Homo sapiens: one gene and its partners. The protein of the gene in region 1 purifies or fractionates together with the protein of each later gene. This does not show direct contact. Each region holds a gene or a part of one and is shown in the gene's direction. Other genes may lie near its edges.

Region 1 (4,039 bases):
TGCTTGAGACCAGAGCGGTTTGGATTTCAGGTTTTGGAATATTCACATACACATAATGAGATGTCTTGGAGATGGGACTCAAGTCTAAACACAAAATTCATTTATGTTTTATATATACTTTAAACAGGTAGCCTGGAGATACTTTTATACAGTATTTTAAACTTGTGCCTGAAACAGTTTTGGTTGTGACCCATCACATGAAGCCAGGTGTGGAATTTTCTATTTGTGGCATCATATCAGCACTCAAAAAATTTCTGATTTTGGATTTTTGGATTAGGGATGCTCAACCAGTTTTACTTCTTCCTTTCCAATGTGGATACCTTTTCCTTTTTTTTTCTTTCCTAATTGTTCTGGCTAGAACTTCTATTTCTTTCCTAATTGCTCTGGCTGAACTTCCAGTATTATATTGATTAAAGTGAACATCCTTGTCTTGTTCCTGATCTTAGAGGAAAAACTTCCAGTCTTTCACCTTCACACCATTAGCTGTGGGCTTTTCATATATGGCCTTTATTATGTTGAGGTAATTTCCTTCTATTCCTAGTTTGTTGAATATTCTTAAATCGTGAAAGGGTGCTGAATTTTGTTAGATAATTTTTCTGCATCAATCAAGAAGATTGTGTTTTTTTTTTTTATTTTGTTAATGTGATACATTATGTTGATTGATTTTCATTATATAGAACCATCATTGGATTCCAAGAATGTCTCCCTTGGTCATGGCATATAATCCTTTTCATGTGCTGTTGAATTCTGTTTGTTATTATTTTGTTGAGGATTTTCACATCAGTATTAATCAAAGATAATGGTTTGTAGTTTTTTTATAGTGTCTTTGTCAAGCTTTAGTATCAGGATAATGCTGGCCTCAGAGTGAGTTTGGAAGTGTTTACTTCCTCTTCACGTTTTTGGAAGAGTTGAGGGAATATTGGTGTTGATTCTTCTTTAAATGTTTGGTAGAATTTATCAGTAAAGCCATCTGGTCCTGGGTTTTTCTTTGTTGGGAGTAAATAGATACTTTAAAAAAATTCACCTTTTAAAATTATTTATACAACCCCATCCAAACTTTACTACCTATCCTGCAATGTTTATTTTTTCCTTTATGGTCATCAGCCCATCCAAGATCATTGATTGCTTCTAATTGTCATGTCTTTTTAGTCTTAATCTATCTGGAAGAGTTCCTGCACCTTTCTCTATCTTTCATGACCTTACCAATTTAGAGAGTACACACCTTTATTCTGTAAGATGTCTCTTAACCTGGGTCTGTCTTGTGTTTCCTAATGTTCAGATTCATGTCATATATTTTTGGGAGAAATACCTCAAATGACTGTTGCATGCTTCTCACTGTATGAGATCAGGAGGCACATGCTGTTGACTTAGTCCACAACCTTGGTCAAGTGGATATTTGCCCCGTCAATCATTTGTCTTAAGAAGGGCAAATTGACTGGTATTGTGAGAGCAGGGGAAAGGAGCTATCATAATTTTACCATGTCCTCAGAATCTCCTTTCCCACTTGAGATGTCCTAATTTAAGGTCATCAAGAATTCGTATTTTAAGAATAATTAGAAGTCATTTAACTTTTTAGGCAAGATGAGATATGAAAAATTTTTGTATATGCTGTGTGGTTAGGGTGAAGGTTAGTTGGTTTTTCTTTTGCATATGCTATCCAGTTATTTCATGCCTGTATATTTTATTTAAATTTTGCTCTAAAGGTTACAATTTGTATATTTACCACAGTCTACCTTCAAATTATATTACATTAGTTCATTTTCAGTGTAAAAAATTTTTCAATAATTTCTATTTTCCTGTTTTTCCTTTGAACCATTTTTGCCATACGTTTTATGTGTATGTTAGACTATAGATGATTTTTAAAAAATATATTCCTTTACGTAGACTTTAAACAGTTTTCTTTTATATGTATATATATTTTTTGAGATGGAGTCTCGCTCTGTCGCCCAGGCTGGAGTGCAGTGCCACAATCTCGGCTCACTGCAACCTCCGCCTCCTGGGTTCAAGCAATTCTCCTGCCCCAGCCTCCCGAGTAGCTGGGATTCACCACACCTGGCTAATTTTTGTATCTTTTAGTAGAGACAGGGTTTCACCATGTTGAGCAGGCTGGTCTCGAACTCCTGACCTCAAGTGATCTGCCCTCCTTAGCCTCCCAAAGTGCTGGGATTACAGATATGAGCCACCACACCTGGCCTACACTTGTTTTTATGGTTTGAGTTTTCATAACAAACTTCCCCTTCCACAACAGATAACACACAAGTAAGTTTGTGTCCTTTTTTTTTTTTTTTTGTCTAAAATAAATTCAGTGAGTGGGTTCCAGCTAATAAGATTTAGCTATATGTTAAAAAAATGTATATTTGAAAATAATCTCTCATAGATGTTGGACCTTTAGACTAATATGCATCATATTTGAATTTTCTGATTCTTAAAGGTTTTTGAAATTGGAAAGTATGTTTTTGGGTCTTTGAATTAGGTTCTTTTTTTTTTTGCTTTTTTTTTGAGATGGAGTTTTCACTCCTGTTGCCCAGGTTGGAGTGCAATGGCGCGATGTCTCACTGCAACCTCTGCCTTCTGGGTTCAAGTGATTCTCTTGCCTCAGCCTCCCAAGTAGCTGGGATTACAGGCATATGCCACTAATTTTGTATTTTTAGTAGAGACGGCATTTCACCATGTTGGTCAGGCTGGTCTTGAACCCCTAACCTCAGGTGATCCACCTACCTCGGCCTCACAAAGTGCTGGGATTACAGGCGTAAGCCACTGCACCCGGCCTAGGTTCTTTAATTAATATATTTTTGGTATTTATGTAAAATGTTTTTCTTTTTCTCCCCCAGAAACTCGTTTTCATCTTCTTGGTTTCATCTTAATACCAACGTCATGTCTGGTTCTAATGGTTCCAAAGAAAATTCTCACAATAAGGCTCGGACGTCTCCTTACCCAGGTTCAAAAGTTGAACGAAGCCAGGTTCCTAATGAGAAAGTGGGCTGGCTTGTTGAGTGGCAAGACTATAAGCCTGTGGAATACACTGCAGTCTCTGTCTTGGCTGGACCCAGGTGGGCAGATCCTCAGATCAGGTGAGCAAATAAGACAGCGTTAGCTGGGAATAAGACTTTTAGAGAAGGTAATGGTTTTATTTGTAAAGTATCTTTTTGACACCTGAAAATAATTTCAATCTATGCTTAGCTGTGTTATAACTCAGTTTCCACATTTGCTTGAATTCTTGCCAAAGATAAACAGTTCATATTTGTTTATTCTTTTGGGGGTTTTATGAGGATACTTCCAAATAGTTAAATCTGTTTTGATTTGAAATAACAAATAGCATCAGCTATGTGTTATGAAATAACAGCTGGTACTGTTATATTTGTTTTGAAATAACAGCTGATGGTATTTGTTTTCATGTGTTCTATTTGGGTTATCAATAGAATATCCTTTGTGGTTATTTTCCAACATAGCTAGACTTGTGAAAATATTTTTCGGAAAATTCTCCAGGTTACTAAGAACAGGATGATGATAAACCAGTGTGAAAAAATAGAAAAGGGTTGGATAAAGGGGAGTGAGAGGGGGAGAATGAGAGAGAAGGGGCTCTCACTAAATTCATAGAAGTGCCGCATTGATTAACATTTTATGTTTATGTTTCTTTTTTATTTTCCAGCTTTATTGATATATGATTGACAAGTAACTATATATATTTAAGGTGTACAATGTGATATTTTGACATACATATACATTGTGAAGTGATTACAACAATCAAGCCATTTAAAATAATCTTACATGGTTACCTTTTTTGTGTGTGTAGTGAGAAGAGTTGAGATCCACTCTCAGCGAGTTTCAAGTATACAATACTGTATTATTACTATTTTTGAGACTGGTGCTCTCTCTCTCTGTCACCCAGGCTGGAGTACAGTGATGTGATCACAGCTTGCTCCAACCTTGAACTCCTGGGCTCAGGTGATTCTCCTGCCTCAGCCACCTGAGTAGCTAGGACTATGGGCATGTTCCACCATACTTGGCTAATTTTATTTTATTTTTAAGTAGAGATGGG
Region 2 (4,722 bases), on another chromosome or scaffold:
GTATTTCTGATAAATCTTCTCCCCCTGTGCCCCCAAGCTGGTATGAATCAGTTTTCTGTTGACCAAAGAGCCCAAACTCATACATGTATTGGAGCAAAAAAAACCTGTGAATTCAAGGCCTGCCCAATGTGGGAGATGTTGATTACCTTAGAAAAACAAAGCTTGGTGCTTCTGATCCCAAGAATGCCGATATAATAGCAGAGTAGCATTAATTTTGTTGTGTCCTAGCATCCCAGAAATCAAACATGCAAGAAATATACATTTCTTCATTTTCTTTAAATCAGATTAACTCTGGTCCTACACTGGGCTGATGGAAAATTCAAATATAAGCATCATATGTTACCCCTAGTTCTGTTCTCCCTCTGCATCCCTCACCCCCAGAGCCACAAGAGAAATAGGGAGGCTTGCTGATGTCCGGACAATTGGGAAAAGGCCTCTAATCTCCAAGTGCCTTGGAGTCATCCAAGTCATCATTGATCAAGCCTTGCAACCTTCCCTGCAAGTCCCTGGCTCTCTGCTTCCATGGCACAAGAATAGAGAACTCTTTCCTGAGGCTAATGGACACCATGCTCCTTTGGGTGCAGTCATCCCTTCTGAAGTCACAACATCTTTGTGGAAAAATTAACATCTTGAAGCAGGGCCAGGTGTCCACTAATCCTGTGATATGCCAATCTTTTCAGTTAGCTTAGGCTTTTATAATAGACCACAAGAGTAAGTGACTTCCTTCTAGGAGTTTCAGCTTTCCACCCTGAAAAAACTCCCTCAAAGATTTTTTTTTCCTTTTAATAAATTGTTCTGCCATGTGTCTGTTGCACGAATGGGTGCAAGTTCAAATGGGACCCCATAACTGGTGATTGTGAGCAGCTAAGGGGCATCACTAAAATACTAGATATTAAAGTCCAAGAGTATGATGAGGACAAAGAGTGGTTGTAAAGAAACCTAAAAAACAATGAGGGCAAACTTTATCTGTCTCACAATAGTTATGATAGCATTTAATGTTTCTGGTGCAGAAGTAATTTTTCTCCACTCTGCCTTGTGCTGGAATCAAAACAATATTCCTCAATCTTGTTAGGGAGTGAATAACTTTTAGGGAGAAGGTCTCAAATGGGAAGTGGTTTAAAGTTTATGAATTGCAAGAATACCTTTTGATATCTAAACAAAGTGTACTAAGGAATTCAACCCACAGAAGAGCTGATATTCAAAATCAGAATTATTAAAAATTGTAGTGGGGTCAGTGGGGGTTTGGGGAGGGTGAACAGGAGTGCATGAAGAGCATCAAAATAAGCACAAGTGATTTACCATTGGCTTGGTTTCTTCGGGGAATTTGAAGAATTCATACTTATTTATACGTTTTCAAATATTTATTTAAGTGCCTACAACATGTGAGGCATTTGGGAATGTCTCAGTTAACGTGGTACATAAGTTCCTTGCTCTAATAGAGCTCACATTTGGATGTCTTCTAATTCTGAACCTGAATGTAAGAGCACAATACAATCAATGAAGCAGTGAGCCCAGGAAGCCATGGATCTTCACAAGCCTCAGGAAAAGTCAACATTTAAAATTTTCTATTTAAAGTCCAAGGGCACAGCAAGCTCTTGGTCTATATGGGAAGGCCATGGACTACAATTCCCACAAGTCCGTGCGACCTCTCCGTTCTGCGCAGCTTCGCGGTATGAGGAAGAGGGTCCTGTCAGGCGCACTCTTGTTGCATCATCAGCGTGCACCTCCACGATGAAACAGGTCTGGGCTACAAAAGTATGGCCGCTTCTGAGGCGGCGGTGGTGTCTTCGCCGTCTTTGAAAACAGACACATCCCCTGTCCTTGAAACTGCAGGAACGGTCGCAGCAATGGCTGCGACCCCGTCAGCAAGGGCTGCAGCCGCGGTGGTTGCGGCCGCGGCCAGGACCGGATCCGAAGCCAGGGTCTCCAAGGCCGCTTTGGCTACCAAGCTGCTGTCCTTGAGCGGCGTGTTCGCCGTGCACAAGCCCAAAGGGCCCACTTCAGCCGAGCTGCTGAATCGGTTGAAGGAGAAGCTGCTGGCAGGTACTGCAGCCCGGGTGGGGACCAGGCTGAGGCGGTCGCTGCGAGAGGGGAAGCACATTAGGCTTTTTGCGACGCTCGTGATTCAAGAGACAAAAGGAGGGGAAAGGGAGACTGACCATTGAATTAGCTCTGGACAGGAATCTCGGGCATCTCGGGCTTGGACTTGCCCTGGCACGAACTCTTGTAGCCTACTTGGCAGTTGTAGTTCTCAACGGGAGGAAAAAAATCCCGTACTTACACAATAAAACCCTGCCCTTGGGCGTGCAGACCTGTTTTCTGTAATCTGATCGATCCCTCAGGAGGCTTTTGTTGGGTTCATGTGGATGAACCCCAAAAGGAAGTACTGGTTCTGCACCCCTAAAGTTGCATTCCTCAAAATGTATTGGAAATGCAGATATACTTCGTTAACCAAGACTTAATATAGTCGTTTTCACATTTTAATGGGCCTAACAATTACTTAGAGTCTCTTGTACAAATACAGATTCCTAATCCCTGCCCTGTCCGAGATTGTGATTCGGAGAGTTCGGGGTATTTTTAGGAAACTGCAATTCTAAATAGTTGCTCCAGGTGATTCCAGTGTAAGTAGTTTATGGACCACATTTGAGGAACACTAAATATAACTTGGCCACTAAGCTGAGAGTGTTCATTTTATTGATTCGTTTATTCACGTACACTGGGAAAATAGTAGAAAAGCCTAGAGAATCACCCCGTTAATCAGCTCGGATGATTTCACACATAAAGCATCCAGGATCCTTAAGTTCATTGGACATATACAATAAGCCAGGTCTGTGCTAGCCTATAGAGACTTGAAGATGAAAGATAACTCTCTTACCTTAACTGAGCTGATAGCCTAGTAATTTCTGCACCTTGTGGTGGTAAAACTAGTTAGTTAGGTTATTCAAGGCCCTCCAGAGTTTGGCCGTATTCTGTCTCGCCATTAAACCAGTAACAGGGACTTTCTTACATTGTTTAGTGTCCCATGGAAAACTTTACACTTTAAAAAAATGCAAAAACAAATTATTCTGATGGGAATTATAACTGACAGTACAGATTTAAGTGTTTATGGGCAAATAGGTACACTCCTGCAGATGTTTAATTCCAGTATCACGACTACTTATTCTTTTATTAAAGTTTTGCTTTGTTGCCTGAAAGTATGGGTCATACAGAGGACGTCAAAGTGAGGAATTGCATCAAGGATATGTATTGTGGTATCATCATAGTTTTTTAGTTTTCCTTCATAGAACTGCTGCTTTCCTGATTTGTTAGCTAAACTCTGGGTTTCTTTTCTTTTTTTTTTTTTTTTATCCTTAAGGTAATGATTACCATTCTTTCAGACAAGTTTCTGACAAAGCCATATTCTGGCCTTCTGGCTAATCTGCCTCTAAGAACTGAAGTTTCTTGTTGAATCTTGGTTAAAATGTTTCAAGGCTCTTGCTAGGCTAGAACCTTTAGCTAGAGACATTCTCATTATCCTCGATTTCTATATTGCTTGTGATTGGCCTATTTTGTATTTATGTTAGTTAGGCTAGGGCTTTCCAAATGTCATTGTAATTGGCTGTCAGAATTGCTTGGGAAGTTTTTGTTTTTGTTTTTGTTTTTGAGATGGAGTTTCGCTGTTGTTGCCCAGGCTGGAGTGCAATGGCAAGATCTCGGCTCACTGCAACCTTCCCCTCCTGGGTTCAAGTGATTCTCCTGCCTCAGCCTCCCAAGTAGCTGGGATTACAGGCATGCACCACCATGCCCAGCTAATTTTGTATTTTTGGTAGAGACGGGGTTTCTCCATGTTGGTCAGGCTGGGCTCGAACTCCCGACCTCAGGTGATCTGCCCGCCTCAGCCTCCCAAAATGCTGGGATTACAGGCATGAGCCACCACTCCCGGCCTTGGGAAGGTTCTTAAAGATACCTACATTCTAATGCCATGTTTGACAACCATGATCAGTGGTTGTGTCCTCTAATACCATTCCTTGTCTTTCTTTGCATTGATTCCTATTATGCTACAATCTCTACTGTTTGTCTGTTGGGATCCTTCAAAGCCCTAAGTGTACCAGAATTTTATAGCTAGAAAATAATAAAAATCCACGAATACTTAGTTCAGTGGGGTGAACCAAATTCCCCACTTTATATAGTAGAGGCAGTACGTCTGCAAGTTAGAAGGAGGTATATTTGGGCACAAAGGGAAGATAGTATATTTATGGGGCCTTCTTACTCCAAGGGGTGTCAAGTTGAAAATGTAAAGAGTTCCCCAAAAGGTTTCTGTTAATTTATGAGTGAGAGATCCATGATGGATTGCAAGTGACAGATCAAGGGTTTGAAACTGAGGTCTGGCCTTAGAAGTTTATGTCAAAGCAGACAACCATACCCTTCTAAGTATGGTGATGTCATAATTAGGGAATGACGCCAGGGTGTTCCAGAGACCATGGTTCTGACTCAGTAGAGTGGTAATTTTGTTGGGAGGCCGAGCCACCCAGCATATCCTTTTGGCCATTTAATCTGGCTTCTGCATTTCCACTGTTGCTTTGTTTTCCCTCCTCCCTTCTCTGTCCACTCGTTTCGTTTTCTTTGCTTTATTTTCTTTCTGCTCAGTGTCAGTGTTGATAAGGAAGGTTTGATGGGCTTGGGGGCAGGTATAGATCAATGTAGCAGTTCCTGCTTTTCTCTTCTTTCTCACTTGAAGTCTAA
Region 3 (4,807 bases), on another chromosome or scaffold:
GGGAAATCCAGTAAGACCTGTCTGCTTAGATTCTTCTTGGCCTCTCTCCATAGGACCCTCTTTGGAATGGGGGTCTTATGACCTAAACTCAGACAGGGTGAGTCATATAATTTCTTCGTGGTCAGATTTTACATAGAAACACAGGGAGAATGCTAGAGTAATATCTATCTATCTATCTATCTATCTATCTATCTATCTATCTATCTATCTATCTATATCTCTCTCTCTATATATATATATTTTTTTTTTGAGACGGAGGCTCCCTCTGTCGCCCAGGCTGGAGTGCAGTGGCGCGATCTCCACTCACTGGAAGCTCCACCTCCCAGGTTCATGCCATTCTCCTGCCTCAGCCTCCCGAGTAGCTGGGACTGCAGGTGCCAGCCACCACACCCGGCTAATTTTTTTGTGTTTTTAATAGAAACGGGGCTTCACCGTGTTAGCCAGGACGGTCTCGATCTCCTGACCTCGTGATCCGCCTGCCTTGGCCTCCCAAAGTGGTGGGATTACAGGCGTGAGCCACCTTGCCTGGCCTAGAGTAGTATTTTTATGTTTTATGGCTGGCTTTATAAAAAAGGGGTCCTGATTTCTGGGACCTGATTTGGGAAAGAGGAATTCTAGCTTCTATGACTAGTCTGGGGAAGAATGTGGGACCAGAGACAGGAGACCAAAAGGAGTCAGAGGAAAATTTTTCCTTCTAAGGCTGCTTCTGAGGCCTTCATTGTGGGGTATCATTTTCTGAACCCCAAAACTTTGAACTCAGTGTGTTTCACTCTCTGCTCTTGCTGTGTGACCTGAGGACAAATCACTTAACTACTCTGAGCCTCAGTTTCCTCATCTGTCTGACAAAGCTAATCATACCTTTTTCAAGAAACTGTTAAAACTTTAAGGAAAATAATGCATATAAAAACACATTTCGGCCAGGCGTGGTGGCTCATGCCTGTAATCTTTGGGAGGCCGAGGTAGGCGGATCACTTGAGTCCAGGAGTTTGAGACCAGCCTGAGCAACATGGTGAAACCCCGTCTCTACAAGATACAAAAATTAGCCGGGCGTTGTGGCAGGCGTCTGTAATCCCAGCTACTCAGGAGGCTGAGGCATGAGAATCGCTTGAATCCAAGAGGCGGACGTTGCAGTGAGCCGAGATCGCGCCATTGCACTTCAGCCCGGGCGACAAAAGTGAAATTCCGTCTCAAAAAAACAAAACAATAAAACCCCACACAATTGCTTGAAGCATAGTAAGTCCTCAATAAATAGTATGTAAGTAAATTATCAAGAATTGGGCAGTTGGTTCTGGTTATCAGTTTATTTTTTTTTAATCTAGTATAGGTTTACCAGCTTTAGGTTAGCACCTAAAAGCTGCATAATCGGAATCATATCTGCAATCTGGGTTTTGTCAAAATAGTACTATAGAATAAATGGGAGAAAGAAGAAAGCAAGCTAAATGGGAAACCGTGAATGAATGGAGGACGAAAGAAGAAAAAGGCAAAGTAAAGAGAGAAGTAATGTTTAAAAACTGAGAGATGAAAAGACAAGCAGGAGAAAAGAACCAGAAGCTAGAATGAAGAGGCAGTATCCCATGCTCCAGCGCGGGTCAGGACCCGGCCCGGCCTGGCAGAGGCTCGCAGGGCGCAGCTCGGGGCGGGGCCCAGCAAAGCAACCACGCCCCCTCAGGAATGGAGTTTTTAAGGGCGGAACTTCCTGTTGCGAGTAGCCCCTCTACCTCCGGAAGAGACGAGTGCGGTAACACCGTTCACAGAGCTAGCCGGACGTCCTCCGACTCAAGGTGAGACCGTTATTTTCCTCACCGCACCCTCCGGGTTCAGCGGGCGCTGTGGGTTTCCAGGGAGGCCCCTTCCCTCCTCAGGAGCGGGCGCGAGCGCCGTGCGCGGTCGGCGCCTAGGGTGGAGGCAGCCTCTGGGTGACCCCTGCCTGCTGCGTTATCCGGAGCTGCCCTGGGCGACCGGGAACAGTTCCGGCATTGGAGTAGCGGTTCGCTCACGCGACCTCACTTAACCTCTGTGGCGGCTTCTGTGGAATAATTGCCCCTTTTTATGTCCCCAACTCCGAAAAGCTCCTAGAAACTTGGTGCATCCCCAGGCCCAGGTAGTCACTCTAAGTGATGGGGCAGCGCCCAGGTCCTGTGCTGCCCGCAGTCGCGGTGCTGGGACAGGTGGCAAAAAGGAAGGTGGCCTGGCTCCTACGCTGGAAGGCTGTGACCAGGACAGAAACAGCAGGAAACAGTTCAGGTGTTTATGGCTTTGGGAAAATGAAAGTGAGTAAACTACGGACCCTGCCCATCAATAAATGTACTGTGATTTATATATATATAACTATTCATATATTATATATAACTATATATAAAAATATATATAAAATGTACTTATATACTTTATATATAGTACATAAATATACTTATGTATAGTATATATACTTATATATAGTACATAAATATACTTCTGTATACTTATATATAGTACATAAATATACTTACGTATATATACTTATATATAGTACAGAAATATACTTACGTATATATACTTATATATAGTACAGAAATATACTTAGGTATATATACTTATATATAGTACAGAAATATACTTAGGTATACATACTTATATATAGTACCTAAATATACTTAGGTATATATACTTATATATAGTACATAAATATACTTACATATATACTTACATATAGTATATAAATATACTATATGTATAGTACATAAATATACTATGTATAGTATATATACTATATATACTATATATAGTATCTATACTTATGTATAGTATATATAGTATCTAAATATACTTATGTATAGTATATATAGTATCTAAATATACTTATGTATAGTATATATAGTATCTAAATATACTTATGTATAGTATATATACTATATATAGTATCTAAATATACTTAATGTATACTATATATAGTATCTAAATATACTTATTTATAGTATATATATCTAAATATACTTATGTATAGTATATATACTATATATAGTATCTAAATATACTTACGTATAGTATATATAGTATCTAAATATACTTATGTATAGTATATATACTATACATAGTATCTAAATATACTTATGTATAGTATATATACTATACATAGTATCTAAATATACTTATGTATAGTATATATACTATACATAGTATCTAAATATACTTATGTATAGTATATATACTACACATAGATACTATGTATAGTATATATACTCCACATAGTATCTAAATATACTTATGTGTAGTATATATACTCCACATAGTATCTAAATATACTTATGTGTAGTATATATACTCCACATAGTATCTAAATATACTTATGTGTAGTATTTATACTCCACATAGTATCTAAATATACTTATGTGTAGTATATATACTTATGTGTAGTATATATACTTATGTGTAGTATATATATACTAGATATATATATCTAAAGATACTTATGTGTAGTATATATACTACACATTAGTATCTAAAGATACTTATGTGTAGTATATATACTACACATAGTATCTAAAGATACTTATGTGTAGTATACTGTAGTATCTAAAGATACTGTGTGTAGTATACTATATATAGTATCTAAATATACTTATGTATAGTATACTATATATAGTATCTAAATATGTATGGTATATATACTATATATAGTATCTAAATATACTTATGTATGGTATATATACTATATATAGTATCTAAATATACTTATGTATGGTATATATACTATATATAGTATCTAAATATACTTATGTATGGTATACTATATATAGTATCTAAATATACTTATGTATGGTATATATACTATATATAGTATCTAAATATATAGTATATAAAGTATATTTACTGTATTATATATGTGTATGTGTGTGTATGTGTGTGTGTGTGTGTATGTGTGTATGTGTGTGTGTGTGTATATATATATATATATAGTTTGCATCCACCATTCCTGGCTCATAACTCCCATAGCCCTTGACAGGAATCTTGGCCCACCTTTCTGTCTTAGAACTAGCCATGAAGAAATTCTCTGACCTACCTTGTCTGACTGTAGATCGTAAGACCTCCATTTCACAAGGGGTCTTGCCCCATATACAGGAGAAAGGAATGCTGGACAGAGAGGCCAAGATGAATCCGAATGGACAGTCCTTGCTGGGTTTCCACAGTCAGTCTGTTCCATTTGGATCATACTGATTTTGTGGGATCACATTTCTACACAGTTGTCAATCATGCCTATCCAGTGATTATCCAGACTCAGGACCTCAGTTGCTGTCTACTCAAGTAACTTACATGTTTCTACATGGAGGCCATACCTCTCCTGTGAGCTCAGGATCCATGATTCAGCTGCCTAACTGACATCTTTTGATTTTACAGAGGCCTCTCATCTTCCGCTAATTAAACTCCTGATCTCTCAAACTCCTACCTATATCCCAAACTTGACTCTTTTTTTGTTGCTCCCTGTTTCAGTAGACTGTGACGGTTATCCATACAGTTGCCAGAGTGGGAAATCTGGACATCCAGATTCAGAGGAAATCTGAACTCTTCCTGTCCCTGGTACTCTGTAGCCAATCTGTTAGATTCCCTCAAAACAGGTATCTCTGACTCTCTTAACTTCTCTACCAGCAAAACTTCCCTCCCAGGTTTCAGCCAATCATCAGGTATCCTCCCACTACTGCATCCTGAATGTAAATCTGCTGACCCTCTACCAACACCCACTTTCTACCCTTCTGTTGAGTAGCCACAATGAAGTGATTCTTGAAGCCCCTTCAATCAATGTCTTATCCCTAAGGCCCCCCTGTAGAGGATG
Region 4 (4,039 bases), on another chromosome or scaffold:
AACATCTCCTTAATACAACAACCATAACAGCAAACTAAGAAACTGTGATTCCCAAGTGATTTTTCCCGAACCGTATTCCGTATTAATAGGATAAGTGTATGTTTGGAAATTAGAGGCCCTGAAAAAAATCCTGTATTAATGAAATGTTGAAACGTTTAGAATTTTGTTTTACCCAATGTTTCCCAAATGTACTGTGTTTCATTTTGTTTTGTTTTAAGCAAAGCAGCTCTATACATCCTGAGAAAACATTTGGGGAGTGATATACTGTAGTCTTTAGTACTCATCTTATGAGAAGGCTGCATGTGTGCCTTTAGGATGCAGACATTGATCCTGGCTTTCACTCAGTTTAATTAGGACTCTTTAATACATCTGGTTTTAGGTGGTGGAGAACATGACTTTCACTCTGCAGATTCAGGCTGCCTAATAAAGATAGCCCTGTAGACAATAGAAAGGAACTTAGATTGAGGGTCTTGCTGTCATAACTGAACCATATTCGTATGGTGTTTTAGTATGGTGAAAACACTTAATGCTGTCTAGGAAAACATTTGAATATGTTGGGAAGTTTAGTTAGATTATGGCATGAACTCAAATCCATAAGATTTTAGCATTAAAATTATAGATTTGCCATGTAAATGTATTTAATTAATAACATTGATCATGATCACTTACATCTCTGAAGGAAATATTAATGCTCTGCAAAAAAGAAGTTAACTTCTTTTATAGGTTTTCTTGTTGTTGTTGCATGACAACAAAAATGTCTTCAAGGCATAGATCCAAAGTTGCTTTCTGTATTGGAAAAAATAATATAATTGAAAACGTGATTAGCGAGGAGTTTCTACGTACTTCTCCAATATGAATTTGCCTATGGATGCCTGGTCTGTAGAGCCTTCAAGAAACGTAACTGAATTAGGAAAAAAAAAAAAAAATCTTCAAGCAAGTTCTTTTTCCATGAGTAATGCTTCAGCAGTAGCGGATGTATTTCAGAATTGGTCTGGAATCAGTAGACTTTTGATTCCTTAGACATAAAAATACAATTTGAATATAGTTAGTAATTTCAGTGACCAAAAAATTTAACAGGGATAAAGACAATTTCATTATTCACATCTGTCAAAAACTCTTGTTCTGGTTCTCTTGAACAAGAACATGAAACTAAATTAAACAAAACATCTATTTTAATTCTTGGGGTATGACTTGTATACGAATTGAATTTTCTTGTGAGCTGAATTATCTCATGTTTTTATTCATTGTTAAAACCCTTGTTAGAGCTTTTTCTAAAGTAGCAAATCATTGTTTTTTTGATAGAATGCTTCAAAGTTATTGGGGTGATCCTACTGGATATTATTATTTGGTGCGATATTCATAGAAAGTATACATAGTTTGATTATGTTTATGTGTTTCAGGTGTGTCCAGAAAGCTTTCGGTTTTAAATGGATTCTTGTCAGTTATATCTTCTGATGTACTTAGTTCTAGGGGAAAAAAGAGCAGGTTTGTCATAGATTCATTATAGGTTTCACTTTGAATACAAGATGAAGATACTGGTGGTTTGGCTATTAGTAATGAAACTGAAAATATTGTATGCAGATTTTTAAATTGTTTCTCAGACTAATAAAATTTTTGATTTACAGACTTTTTCATTCGTTAATGGTTTTGGAGAAGATAATTGGAAATTCTGCATTTCTTCTTATTTTGAAGGACAAACTCACATACGACTCTTACTCTCCTGATACCTTCCTGGAGATGGTTAGTAATTTCATCTATGGTCATCATAAAAATGTGTAATTCCATTGTTCTTGCATTAGCAAAGAGGATGAGAAGCTTAATGAAAAAAGACATTGAAATATAATTTTTTGTACATTATTTGAAAGAATTTTTATCACTTAATATAAATTACCTGTATGTTCATCTTTTCTATAAATATTTCAAAGTATGTGAAATATGTAGGGTTTTAGAATACTATTAAGATGTTAGTAAGGCAACTGGGGCATTATAACTAGTTGTTTTGCTTGGCTTTAATTAGAAACCCCTTGATATTTAACTTTTTATAAGTCCTTAATCTGTTCCTCCTAAACTTGAATTTGAATGGTCTTCTGGTTTCAGGATGAGTCCATGGAGTGTTAAGTAAAATTAAAAAATTACTGTTCATTTTTATAGGATTTGAAACAAAAATCACAAGATTCTCTGCCACAAAAAAATATAATAAGGCTGAGTGCGGAGCCAAGGTAAATTCATAATTTCTTACAAATGTTTACCACTTTCTGGCTTAATAGTTTTTGGTTTTATGGTTCTGGTTTTTAGTTAGCGTATATTTTGAGGCAATCAATTTATTAATTAAAAAACTCCTAAAAAATGGATTTTCTTTCATGACTGTGTTATGCTCAGTGCCAATAGCTAACACAGTGCTTAGTATATTGACTGCTGAATAAATTATTATAACAATATTTCTCACAGATATAAGGTATAGCATGATAAATATATAGCTTATAAAACATTTTCTTATCTCTATAAAATTTTCAGATTATATCCTTTCTTGATTAACCTTTCATTTAACTACCTTGTTTTCATTAATCCCTGATCCTATTTTTATATGAAAGAAGAAACTTTATTATTATTGGAAGATCAAGGTTTCTACTGTAAATTGTTTATTAGATAACTGTCATTTTGCTGGTGAAACAGCCTTGTTTTAGCACTATTGATTTATGCTAAAGTAAATGGGAAGGGTGTTCAGTGACCTTAAACCAGGGCATTTAATTGGTGGCTACCTAATAATTATAAAGAAATGCATTATGTTTTATTGGTATTTCTTTAAACAGCAAGGTATCTGTTTTTAATAACCAAATATTTGTTGGTCATTTCCTAGTTGACCCAGGCACACAGTGGTTATTTTTTGTAATATAACCTTTAACTGTCAGAATCAAGATATTTAGTACCTCCTCTTGCCAATTATAGGATAAAACAATAATTTCAAAGAGTAATTCATTATTTCAACTAAATATATTTTATTAAAATTATTTAAAAATAAATGGAATGAATGTAAAAAGAATTTATAGTTGCTAGTAAAGTTGAGACTTTTTGTTAAGCATAGACTAAAGTCTTAGTTGTCTAAATTTCTTTAGTAAGTAGAGACATAAGGTGTATACAGCTTATTCCTTAGAACGAGATAATAAGTTTTTTTATTTTAGTAATACTAATGTTCTCTGTAACACGGCAGAAGCCTTAGGAGCTTTCAGATTGCCAGGTCATAGTTAGGATGAAAGGATAATGACACTGAAAGAAATATTTCTTATAAAATTACAAAATGTTTTCTTTGTCTTAAAATAAGTTATGTTTTGATGCATTTGGGGTTATATGCCTGTTCCTTAAATATTGTGTTCCTAGTAAACTCTGGCATTAGTAAATCTATTTGGCTTTAGGCATAGTTCTCTCATCTATTAACTTTTCTTTCTTTTTATATTTTGGTGGAGGAAGATCTTTGTTTTTGCTGGTTATAAGAATAATATATGCTGATATAAGTGATTTGTGCCCCATCTCTGGGTGCTCTTATGCTGGGTGCAGTGAGGCAGGGCTGGAACCATAATAGGTCAGAAGAAAAGATGTTCCCTTTAGTTTATCTCCTTCCTTCACTGTCTTTGCCTTAGCAAACAATAATTGATAATTTTGCCTTTCTAATGCCAGAAGAAGAAAGTTAGGAAATGTAGTATATTAATGAAAGAGAAAAATATTTTTAAGCTTTCATATTGAGGAGTTTTAACTACAGGTAAACATAAATGGAATTTCGGGGGCTATTAGTAAAATGATTGCTTTTTGATATTTCTTTTTAAATAGTTTTTATTTAAATAGTATAGGGTTTATCTTCCTATTACTTCTTTACAGTTCTTTTTTTATCAAATATTGACTTCCTATTTCTGTAGGTTGGTAAATTAGGAATACTTCTGATTGGCAGATTCTTATTTGTTTTTATGCTTATTATCCATTTTATAGGTTAGGGCTTCTTAGATTTTAGGTTTTAAAATCTCTATTTTACTTGTTAGCTGCAAATTAT
Region 5 (4,039 bases), on another chromosome or scaffold:
AGCGTGCCCGGGCTGAACACCAGCCTCCATCTCTGAAAAGGCCCCCTGGTAGGGTCAGACCCACACACCTGTCCAGGAATCAGTGATTGAAATCTGGGGTTCCCAAGCTCTAGCCCACAAGTCAGTGGACTGTGGCTGCACCACGGACAGCCCCAGTCTGTGTGTCACCCCCATCTTCCCTAGCTCTGAGGGTGAATGTGTGGACACGGTGAAAGCAGCTGTTCTCTTCTCTGCTCAGTGTGCCTCAAAAATTGACATCAAATGCAGTTGTTTTTCAACATATTTATGTGAAGTGAGTTTTTTTTGCCAATGACTAAGATTAAAAAGAAAGTAAATTTTGGGGATTTAATTGTATTTTAGATCATAGAAAAGTTGATAAATTTGTGATGAGAGAAAATTGTATACATATTGTAAAATAGGACATTGTGATTTTTTTCTGCTTTCTAAGTATTTAAATATATCCCTTAAACAATATATTTAATTTGAAGTTGCCTCTCATCCTCCTTTAGGAAAGACTTTTATTCTGAGCTTTTCTCTTTCCTTGATTTTAGTCTTTCATGAAATGATATTAAAAATAGACTTAATAACATTTTTTTAAAAACCTGATACAGGCTCCCCAGTTTTATTATTTTATTTCACTCATCCATGAAATCCAAAGGTTTGCTCCTTGACCTGGAAGACAGGTGTAGACTGAATCAAAGAATGATAAGGTTTAAACTTCCTTCTGGTGGGGTGCAGTGGCTCATGTCTGTAATACTAGCACTTCAGGAGCCCAAGGTCAGAGGATTGCTTGAGCCCAGGAGTTTGAGACCAGCCTGGGCAACATGGTGAATCCCCATCTCTACAAAAAAATTAAAAAATCAGCTGGGCATGCTGGTGCACGCTTATGCTCCCAGCTACTTGGAAGGCTGAGGTGAGAGGCTCGCTTGAGTCCTGGAGGTCGAGTTGTGATGCTGCCACTGCAGTCTAGCCTGGGTGACAGAGCAAGACCTTGTCTCAAAAAAAAAAAAAAAAAATGTAGATTAAAAGGAACCCTTGCAGACTGTTGGTGAGAATGTAAATTGATGCAGCCGCTATGAAAAACCCCACTGCACTGCAGCCTGGGCAACAGAGTGAGACCCTGCCTCAAAACAAAAAAATAAATAGGCTGGGCGCGGTGGTTTACACCTGTAATCCCTGCACTTTGGGAGGCCGAGGCGGGTGGATCACCTGAGGTCAGGAGTTCGAGACCAGCCTGGCCAACATGGTGAAACCCCCATCTCTACTAAAAATACAAAAAATTAGCTGGGCATGGTAGTGCGTGCCTGTAATCCCAGCTACTCAGGAGGCTGAGGCAGGAGAATCGCTTGAACCTGGGAGGTGGAGGTTACAGTGAGCTGAGATCACGCCACTGCACTCCAGCCTGGGGAACAAGAGCAAAACTCTGTCTCAAAAAATAAAAAATAAATAAATAAAATTGCTTCTGTCACTGGCCCTAGCAGCTTTGGCAAATCTCACCACTTAGGGCCTCGAACTCCTCACCTGTGAATGAGGGACCTGACCATGGTCATCCCTGAAGTCCCAGCATTTAACTCGTAACATGACAAAAAGCAAACCAGGGCTGGGCACAGAGGCTCACACCTGTAATCCCAGCACTTTCAGAGGCCGAGGTGGGTGGATAGCTTGAGATCAGGAGTTCGAGACCAGCTTGGCCAATATGATGAAACCCCGTCTCTACTAAAAATAGGAAAACAAATTAGCTGGGCCATGGTGGCGCATGCCTGTAGTCCCAGCTACTTGGAAGGTTGAGACAGGAGAATCGCTTGAACCTGGGAAGTGGAGGTTGCAGTGAGCTGAGATTGCACCATTGCACTCCAGCCTGGGCATCTCAGTGAGACTCCATCTTAAAAAAAAAAAAAAGAAAAGGAAAAAAAAAAAAAAAGGCAGCATGGTAAGGCCGGGTTTTTATAGATTGGGTCTTTGGAGTGTGCTGTTGGCCTTGGCCACATAGCTGTCTCCTGCCATGCCCTGGCTTTGTGGGGCGCCTAAACCTGTTTTCAGATGATGATTTTGAGTGAGATACAAGTGTAGCTACTTGGAAAAGATTCAGTAGCATCCCTGAGCTATAGTGATAGAAACCCCGTCCTTGTCCCTTCTGTGGAGCAGCCTGTTGGAGCTTCTCTGGGTTGGCCTAGGCCCAGAGATGAGGTCAGCAGCTCAAGGGTCTAGTGTTTTTAGCTGTCTTCCCAGCCCTGCTCCAGAGCCCCCATGTAACCTGCTGCCCTGCAGTGCCCAGCACAGAGCAGTGTCTGTTGAATGCGTGAGTCAAGCAAAACATCAAACAGAATCCTTGACATGGGAAAAACATGCTCCCAGCCACCACCAGCTGAACATTGACATCCAGCTGCTTTCCCACTGGGCAGTGGCTTGTGAAGATGGGGACAGAGTATCATAAATCATCTCCTTTGTGGACAGCAGGGATGATCCTGACCTTCTTGTCACAGACTAAACAGACTAAGTAGCCAGAAGAAAAAAAAAGAAAGAAAGAAAAAAGGGGCTTAAAGGCACTCAGCTGTCAAAATTATAAGGAGGGTTTGTTAAAACTATTTTTTAAAAAAGAAAAGTGGTTAAGTTATGCAGTAGGATATAATATTCTATAATAACTTATTACCAAACTTTTAGCCTTAATCCAGTTGCTATTTTCCTCTTGTCTATTGGATAGACGTATGGAATGTTCTTTTTTTCCCTAAATTTAGTCATGTGCATTTTTTTTCCTATTTATATTGTGGGTTTTTTTTTTTTTTGAGATGGAGTCTTGCTCTGTAGCCCAGACTGGAGTGCAGTGGTGCAATCTCTGCTCACTGCAACCTCCGCCTCCCGGGTTCAAGCGATTCTCCTGCCTTCCAAGTATCTGGGATTACAGGCATGCACCACTATGTCTGGGTAATTTTCATATTTTTAGTAGAGACGGGGTTTCACCATGTTGGCCAGTCTGGTCTTGAACTCCTGACCTCAAGTGATCCACCCACCTCAGCCTCCCAAAGTGCTGGGATTACAGGCGTGAGCCACCGTGCCCTGCCTATATTGTGGATTCTATGTAGATGTTCCAGTGGCTTTTAGGAAGGTCTTTATGATTTCACACATCTGTCTACAGTCATGTCTGCAGAGCAGACTCTCCCCACTCCCTCTGCAGACAGCTGTAAAACATTGTCTTTCATCTCACAGGTATTAGCTTCCTACATGAGTAAAATCAGGTTTAAGTGAATAAAAATTGTGCATCTCTTCCCATGTACCAGGGAAGTATTTTTGGTGCCTCCAAAGACCGAGCACGGTTCACGCCTCTGCTGGCCTTCACACCGCTGCAGCCACACAGTGCAGAAGCCTGCTCCCTGCTGCCCACAAGCATGAGGCAGGTGGGAAGGGGGATGCTCGTGCCACCTTGTAGGCGGGCAGGCAGTCTCATGGGCAGAGGTGTACACAAGGTGGGTGATGAGGAAGACAGCTCTAGGGTATGAATGATCAGCTGCTGAAAAACATCCAGTGCTCAGTGTGGGTACTTAGAGTTATTCTCATAAAAAATGTGAGGCAGAGTTAGTCAGGTGTGGTGATGCATGCCTGTGGTCCCAGCTACTCAGGAGGCTGAGGCAGGAGGATTGCTTGAGCCCAGTGGTTTGTGGCTTCAGTGAGCCATGATTGTGCCACTGCACTCCAGCCTGGCTGACAAAGCGAGACCATGTCTCCAAGAAAAAAAAAAAAAATTTCTAAAAGTACTTGCTGGGTTACACTAAATGAAACCTAAAAAACAAATAGATAAATAATAAAGGTTACACACAGCAGAAGCTTTGTTAACAAATTAACTTATATTAATAGTTGCTGCTGGGAAAACAAGCTGCTTGGTGACTTCCCTAAAGGGTGTCCCACGCATCTGGCGAATGAACAGACAGAGCTCCTGCTCCCGAGTGTCCTGGGAGGCACGTGGGCATGCCGCGTGGGTGGTCTGGGTGCTGCAGCGTGAGTTGTCCTGGGTGTGGAGTGTCAGTGCCTGCAGACCCACACTGCC
Region 6 (2,762 bases), on another chromosome or scaffold:
CGTGGGGTAGCAATGGGACAAGAAGGAGTAAAGATGAGGAAACTGGTGGTGTCTTGGACAACTTTTCTGAATAGCCTTGGCAATCTCTGAATCATCATTACCAGCATGAAGTTGTAGGCTGAGCTGTCCAGAGGCGTGCTCTGCTAGAGTCTTCCCTTCCCACTTCTCAGGCAGAGTGTGGCTTGCTACCCTGCGTCAATTAATACCAGTTATGATATTAATTGATCCTGGGAGAGCTACATCTCTTCACTACTCTGGTCGTTCAGGGCACCCTTTCCAGTGTAGCAGGGTTGAGAGCTGTCTTGATGCCTATAAGAAAGAATGTATGTGGCCCTTGTATATGTGGCCCCCCTTGAGTATGTGGCCCTCCTACCACTGAGGTTGAAGCTGTGCAAATAGACATGATTGGTGATTAATGACAGTTAAAACAGGGCAAATAGTACCAATGAGTAGTGGCATAGTGTAGATTCAAGGAGGGGGGAATTGGAAAAGGGATTTCCTGAGACGAACTACCTCACTGACTCTGTAACTAAAAGGCTGAGCGTGCATATGCCTTTAAACAAGGATCCAGATGTTATCCCCAACTCCGAATACTTCCTAACATCACTGACTTCTTTGCAGAACAGAGGGCTGATTTTTTGTTGCTGTGTCTGGTGGCCTTTGTTGCCACCAAACACTGTAGTAGGGTGCTGGTTTTCAAGGCAAGTATTTCCAGGGTAGATGGAGAACCATTGCAGATGCTGCAGCTCCTTATTGAATGGACTGCAGGTAACAAGTATAGGTGGAGTCCAAATCTCTATCTTCTTTACTGTTATAATCCTGACTTGATTCGAATCAACTGAAAATTTTTATAAAGGGGGATTCTGCACTAGCCATTTGCAAAGTTATTACATGATCTGTAGTAAAATTTACATCATTTCTCACTGTGAGGTAGGGGCATTGGACCGGGTGTCATTCTCAGATCCACAGAGGGAGGAGTCCCAGTCTCTAAAAGGAATAAAAATGAAGACCCTGATGAAGTTTTGAAAGAGTCACCCACTCCATAACAGACTGCTCAGCACAGAGACCACCCCTGCTGTTAACATTTCTAAGCCAATGCCTCGATGTTAGGCCCAGAAGCCTCCTCACTTCACCCTCTGTAGTCCAGGGATATGGGACTGTGGGGTGAAGTGGTTGGGGACGAAGGCTTTGTTTTAAAGCTGAATGACTCAGATCAGGAGGAGGAGTCGTCCCAGGCCCCCCAGAGTCAATGAAAGACCCCTATGCAACTTCTGTCAGAATTCCCTACTCCCACAAAACACAAGCCACCCCCTTACTTCTAAGAGCTGCACCCCTGCTCTCAGCACTGGGTCCCATATGGGGGTGGCTAGAATTGGCTTCCCCAACTTCTGACTCTAACTTCTCAGAAGAATGAAGGCATTAGTCTGAGCAGGGTAGCCTCAAATCAGCAGAAAAGAGAGTTCCAGAGATTTCCAGGTCCTGTCAGGAGTTAAGTTAAAGACCTTAACTGAGATCTGAGGACTCTTTATACCAGAAGAGAGAAGGACCAACAGAATCCCAGCCCTGTGTAAGCCCTGGGAGACCCTGGACAGGGATCCTCTGATGTAGTGCCCTTTGAATTCCCAGGATCCTGGGAGGTGACAGCATTGAACCATGCTTTGGCATCAGACCAGTAGAGAGCAGGGTTCCAGACCTTCCAGCAGTGATGGTGAAGACCCTAATATTTGAGGCAACTATCCACACCAGATCAGAAGGGCTCCACAGCATCCAGGCTTCTGCTTTCAGGCCTGAGAAGCCCATGAATGGAGTGGCCAGATATAAAAGTCTCTGAGTTCCACCTCTGGATTTTTAGGGAAGTTAAAAAACTGGTGCCAGAGGGAGGTGTTAAATCAGCAGAGGGAGGAGTTCCAGGCCCTGCTAGGAGGTAAGATAAAGACCCTTTGTGAGGTGTAAGGGTAATAGCCATGCCCTTGCTGTTAGTGGTAGCCAACCTTGGGCAAAAAAAAACCTCTTATATAGCACCCTCTGAATTCCCTCTTTGGAAATTCAAGGAGAGGACAGCATTGGACCAAGGTTACAGCCTCAGGCCAGCAGATAAGAGTCCCAGGCCCTAACAGAAGTAAAGGTGAGGAAACTGAGTGAGATCAGAAGGAACCACCCACCACAAAAGAGAGGGGTTCATAACAGAGTCTGCCCCTGCTCTCAGCCCAGGGAGGTCCCAGGTTGGAGTGGCTATTGTGACACTTTCTGAATTCCATTACTGCTTTCTCAAAGAAGTGAAGAGGTTTAGGTTGTCAGAGGAGCTATTTTGAGGCCTTGCCAAAAGGGAATACAAAGATCTTGAGTGAAGTTTGAGGGGGACTTCCACTCCAAAAGACGGGCCCCATGGATTCATGACAGGTCCAGGACAGGGCCTGATGAAGCACCCTCTGAATTCTGGTGAGAACTCAGGGAGGGGAGGGCGTTGGACCAGAGTGTCAGCCTCTGGTCAGCAGAGAAGGAGTCCCAAGCCCTAAGAAGAGTAAAAAGAATCCTGAGTTCTGAGGGAGCCATCCACCCCAGATCAAAAGGGGACAGCACAGAGTCCCATCTATGCTGTCAACCCTGAGGGACTGTGGGGTAGATATGTTAGGCTGAGGTCTCTCTCACTTTCTCCTTTTGTAACTCAGAGATGTGAGGGCCTTGCTCTGAGGGGATAGGTCTCAGGCCATCACAGGGTGAAGTCCCAGGGCCTAGCAGAAGCCAAGGTGAAAACCCTGAGT
Region 7 (4,106 bases), on another chromosome or scaffold:
CACCCAGGGCCGCCCCCGAGCCCCGCCAGGGCCCCACCCCGACTTCTTCTAGGCCCCGCCTCTAATTCCCCAGCCTTCCAAGCTCCGCTCAGTTCGGCCTCCAGCTCCGCCCAGGCCCCCACCCCCCGGCCCTTCGTCCCCGTAGTGTTCCTCACAGGCCCTTCGCCTTCCCACCCCCAGCAACCCCTCTCCCTCCTCCGGGCCTCCTCCCTCTCCCAGCTCGCCCTCGAGGATCCCCAGAAGAAGTCGGTCCTCGCCCTCGGTGCTCCCCGCTGGGAGGCGGGGTGGGCCTGAGGACCGCCGAGCTCTGCCTTCACTCGGAGGGGTCACTACTGCACAGACCCCACCCGTAGAGATCCGGTCCCCGTCGGTCCGCGGGGCTCTCGCTGGAGCCTCCCCGACTCCGGTTTCCCCTCGTCCAGAAGCCCGACGTAACCAAAGCCCAGTCTGTCACTTTAAACACGCCCCGCCCCGCCTCCCGCGGCTGTGTTGCCTCCTCGCTGGAGAACACCCTGGTCGACCTCTGTGCGTCCGTGTGCGCGAGCGCGTCCCGCCGAGGCGGTGGGCAGGGCGGACGGTGCGCAGTGCGTTCCCGCTGGTCGGAGCCAGCACACTAACCACGCCACGCGCCCTGCCGTCCCTTCGCCTCCAGCCGCTGCAGTCTGGGCCCTGCAGGAGCTGGGAAAAACCGCAGGGAGGTCTTCAGGCCGATATGCAAGTCTCCCAGCCGAAGGGGCAGGGGACCTGAACAGGGGAAGCAGAGCACCTGGGCCTGGCCAGAGCTGACACCTGGCTAGGAGAGGAAGGACCAAGGGACGGGGCGTTCCCAGGTGGGAGCCTGGAGGGCAAAGCGTGGTGCGAGCAGGTGAGGGAGAGAGCTAGTTGGTAAGCGTGGAAGCCCACCCGAGGGGGCTTGACCTGTCCCGAGAGGTCCCCGCACACCCGCTCTGGCCGCACGCCGTACTGCGGGCGTGGAGGCGCAAGCCCGGCGGCCCGGCCTCCACCTGTCCCCCAAGTGCACCCTGGTCCGCGCCCAGAGCTCTCTGGAGGGTGGGGTATGCGGGAGAGGGGTGGAGGCCAAACGCAAGGGCCCTCCTGGAGTCCCCAGCCCTACTTCGGAGCCAGGGGAGGGGGCACCAAGTGAGAGAAATTGGGCACCCCCGCCTCCGCTCCTGCTTTCGCACCCGGCACGCCCATCTCGTCCCCGCGCGTCTGCACCGGCCAGGCGTCCCGCTTGCCCACCCGCCGCCGCGCCCCGCGCCCCCTACCCCAGGGCCTCTGCATTCGGCCCCACCCCTGAGGGCCGGCCGGGAACGCCCCTGGACCGGAATAATTTCCAGGGGGCAAGAGCTTTCGAACCAAGTAAAATAGAACTTGAATGTAGCGGCTGCCGTTGCCTCCTTGTACCGGTAGCGGGGTTGGGGACGGAAGCCTTCGGTCGGTGGAGAGGAGAAAGGGAGAGGCCTTCGGGCGGTGGACGGGGAAGAGAGGGAGTCCTTCGGGCGGTGGAGGGGGTGGAGAGCGAGGCCTTCGGGCGGTGGAGAGCGGGGAGGGGGGAGGCCTTCGGGCGGTGGGAGGGGGAGAGAGGGAGGCCTTTGGGCGGTGGGGGCCACGGGGAGGGTGGTCTTCGGACTACGTGCGGGACAGGAGGTCAGGGCTGGCAAGTCCCTCAGGCCTCCCTCGTTGCCCCAGCCTCGCGGGCCGCCTAACTGCCCCGTTCCAAGGGTGCCACCGGACCCCGCTGGAGAGGAACTTCTCCGTTGGCTGGATTTCATCACCACCCATTCCCGATTCCACGTTTCCTTTAAGCGGGGCTGGCGGAGCCGCAAGGCGGCAAGGAACTGGATTGCGATTGGTCAGCACGTGCCTCGGTCGGCGGTACAATTGGCTGAGGCGCTGGGCCTTGGGAAGCATTCCCCGACGGGATTGGTCGTCGCTCTCGCAGAGCCCGCCTCCCGCAGTACAAGCGGCCCCCGGGTCGGGTGGGAGGAGGGGACTCCGGGAGGAGGAACATGGCGGTGGCGGACCTCGCTCTCATTCCTGATGTGGACATCGACTCCGACGGCGTCTTCAAGTATGTGCTGATCCGAGTCCACTCGGCTCCCCGCTCCGGGGCTCCGGCTGCAGAGAGCAAGGAGATCGTGCGCGGCTACAAGTGGGCTGAGTACCATGGTGAGGGCGGGACCTGCGGGCATGCCAGGGGCACGCCTGGCGAGGCGGGGGCGGGGCTGGCGGGACGGAGACGGGGCTGACGAGGCAGGGGCGGGGCTGGCGGGGCGGGGGCGGGGCTGCGGGCCGTAGCGGACTGCGCTCTGCTCCGAGTCCTGCCCCTGCTAGGTTTGACCCAGGCTGAGGTCCTGGGCGGGAAGGGCGTGACACGGCCTGACACCCTCCCCAGCAGTCTCCCAGTTCCCGCGCCCTCCCCGGTTCCACCCTCCTTCGCTCATTCATCCCTGTCCCAGCCTCAAGGGGCTTCGTCTCTCCTGGGGAAGGGGCTGTTCAGAGCTGGGATTTCAGACCCCTTCGGCTGGGAGTTCCTCCCGCGGCCTCCAAGGGCGGCCAGGGCACGTCCTGAGGCCGCCCTCCCATCCCAGCGGACATCTACGACAAAGTGTCGGGCGACATGCAGAAGCAAGGCTGCGACTGTGAGTGTCTGGGCGGCGGGCGCATCTCCCACCAGAGTCAGGACAAGAAGATTCACGTGTACGGCTATTCCATGGTGAGCCGCAGCCCCGTCCCGCCCTGCCGGAGGCCCCAGTACCAGCTTCGAGGCCCACCTGAGCCTGCTGCCCTGACCCGTGGCCCCAGCTGAGCACGCAGGCTTCCTGGGGTTCTCCCAGGGTCGGCGGCAGAGCCCTCCCTCCAGGGCCCATTGTGTTCCTGCATTCCCCCATGGAGCACACGCCAGACCTGAGGGGTGGGACGGACACCCCCAGACATGGCCGGCTGTCTCCTCTCCCTGCCTTGGGAGGCCTTGCTGGGCTCTAGCTGTCCTCCAGCACTTTGGGCCCTGGGCCCCCAGAGGCAGTCAGTACCTGGGTGGAGCTCAGAGTCCCCACCTGTGCTCTTCACAAAAACCACCAGCAGATGAGACCCACGTGCGTCCCTCTGGGCGCCTCAGGCCCCAGGATCCACCATCAAGGTTTGCTTGCCTGTGGAGGTCGCCTCTCCCCAGGGGAGCCCCCAAGGGCGGTCGGGATGGTGGGTTTGGCATCCCCAGGCACTGCCTATCCCTTTCCCACACTCGCTTCTGGTGTGGCTGGTGGCTGGATGCCCAGAGCCGGGTATCGGGTTGAAGGGTCCAGGTAGTGCCAGCAGGCGTCTTCTCTTCTCCAGGCCTATGGTCCTGCCCAGCACGCCATTTCAACTGAGAAAATCAAAGCCAAGTACCCCGACTACGAGGTCACCTGGGCTAACGACGGCTACTGAGCACTCCCAGCCCGGGGCCTGCTGCCTCCAGCAGCCACTTCAGAGCCCCCGCCTTTGCCTGCACTCCTCTTGCAGGGCTGGCCCTGCCTGCTCCTGCGGCAGCCTCTGGTGACGTGCTGTCCACCAGGCCTTGGAGACAGGCTAGCCTGGCCACAGAATTAAACGTGTTGCCACACCTGCCGGCTTCTGAACTCTGTCCTTGGCTTCCTGCACCCTGCGTCACCACCTCCGGGGGCCCCCAGACCCTAACTAAAGCAGGTGGGTGGGGGAACACAGGAGTGGCCCCAGGGAGTGGCGGTGCACACTCAGCCCTTTGGGGTCTGATAAAGGGGCCCGCTGATGGCCTGACTGCTCTTCCCACGGCCATCGTCCTCCAGGGCATCTTGGAGGAGGTCTGGCAAGCCCTTGCGAGAGGAGTCAGGGCCTGGTCCCTCGGGCTGGCCAAGACCTGGGGCGCCCACCAGTGCTCCCTCCTATGAGCCCATCCCAGGGCTCCCCAGTGTCCTGTCTGCCCTGAGGCTCCTTCCGTGACCTGCAGGCTCCTTCCATGACCAGCCCCATGGGGCCTACCAGTATCCAGGGTCAGGTCGCACAGCTGCATCTACCCCACAGGCTCACGTTGACTCTGGAGGCCCCTCCCAGGTCCCTCTTGCACCCGGCAGGGCTGTGGGCAGGAC

Evidence for each region.
Region 2: the proteins of NUDT9 (region 1) and TRUB1 purify together in Homo sapiens (affinity purification with mass spectrometry; one large-scale study listed by BioGRID and IntAct). This does not show direct contact.
Region 3: the proteins of NUDT9 (region 1) and IMPA1 fractionate together in Homo sapiens (co-fractionation; one large-scale study listed by BioGRID). This does not show direct contact.
Region 4: the proteins of NUDT9 (region 1) and MAN2A1 fractionate together in Homo sapiens (co-fractionation; one large-scale study listed by BioGRID). This does not show direct contact.
Region 5: the proteins of NUDT9 (region 1) and IMPA2 fractionate together in Homo sapiens (co-fractionation; one large-scale study listed by BioGRID). This does not show direct contact.
Region 6: the proteins of NUDT9 (region 1) and MAGEB10 purify together in Homo sapiens (affinity purification with mass spectrometry; one large-scale study listed by BioGRID and IntAct). This does not show direct contact.
Region 7: the proteins of NUDT9 (region 1) and PHPT1 fractionate together in Homo sapiens (co-fractionation; one large-scale study listed by BioGRID). This does not show direct contact.

What each region holds. Positions count from the first base shown.
Region 1 is NC_000004.12:87,432,150-87,436,188, forward strand, and holds part of NUDT9 (ADP-ribose pyrophosphatase, mitochondrial isoform a precursor), read left to right. Parts: intron 1-2,831; coding exon 2,832-3,071; intron 3,072-4,039.
Region 2 is NC_000010.11:114,936,497-114,941,218, forward strand, and holds the start of TRUB1 (pseudouridylate synthase TRUB1), read left to right. Parts: upstream 1-1,698; 5' UTR 1,699-1,757; coding exon 1,758-2,043; intron 2,044-4,722. UniProt on the Homo sapiens protein: Pseudouridine synthase that catalyzes pseudouridylation of mRNAs and tRNAs. Mediates pseudouridylation of mRNAs with the consensus sequence 5'-GUUCNANNC-3', harboring a stem-loop structure. Constitutes the major pseudouridine synthase acting on mRNAs.
Region 3 is NC_000008.11:81,683,226-81,688,032, reverse strand, and holds the start of IMPA1 (inositol monophosphatase 1), read left to right. Parts: upstream 1-1,707; 5' UTR 1,708-1,781; intron 1,782-2,069; exon of another isoform or gene 2,070-2,117; coding exon of another isoform or gene 2,118-2,270; intron 2,271-4,807. UniProt on the Homo sapiens protein: Phosphatase involved in the dephosphorylation of myo-inositol monophosphates to generate myo-inositol. Is also able to dephosphorylate scyllo-inositol-phosphate, myo-inositol 1,4-diphosphate, scyllo-inositol-1,3-diphosphate and scyllo-inositol-1,4-diphosphate.
Region 4 is NC_000005.10:109,787,309-109,791,347, forward strand, and holds part of MAN2A1 (alpha-mannosidase 2), read left to right. Parts: intron 1-1,625; coding exon 1,626-1,740; intron 1,741-2,151; coding exon 2,152-2,219; intron 2,220-4,039. UniProt on the Homo sapiens protein: Catalyzes the first committed step in the biosynthesis of complex N-glycans. It controls conversion of high mannose to complex N-glycans; the final hydrolytic step in the N-glycan maturation pathway.
Region 5 is NC_000018.10:12,001,766-12,005,804, forward strand, and holds part of IMPA2 (inositol monophosphatase 2), read left to right. Parts: intron 1-4,039. UniProt on the Homo sapiens protein: Phosphatase that can use myo-inositol monophosphates, myo-inositol 1,4-diphosphate, scyllo-inositol-1,4-diphosphate, glucose-1-phosphate, beta-glycerophosphate and 2'-AMP as substrates in vitro.
Region 6 is NC_000023.11:27,817,990-27,820,751, forward strand, and holds part of MAGEB10 (melanoma-associated antigen B10), read left to right. Parts: intron 1-2,762.
Region 7 is NC_000009.12:136,847,419-136,851,524, forward strand, and holds PHPT1 (14 kDa phosphohistidine phosphatase), read left to right. Parts: upstream 1-1,990; 5' UTR 1,991-2,012; coding exon 2,013-2,172; coding exon of another isoform or gene 2,173-2,178; intron 2,179-2,594; coding exon 2,595-2,719; exon of another isoform or gene 2,720-3,084; coding exon of another isoform or gene 3,085-3,142; intron 3,143-3,336; coding exon 3,337-3,429; 3' UTR 3,430-3,606; downstream 3,607-4,106. UniProt on the Homo sapiens protein: Exhibits phosphohistidine phosphatase activity.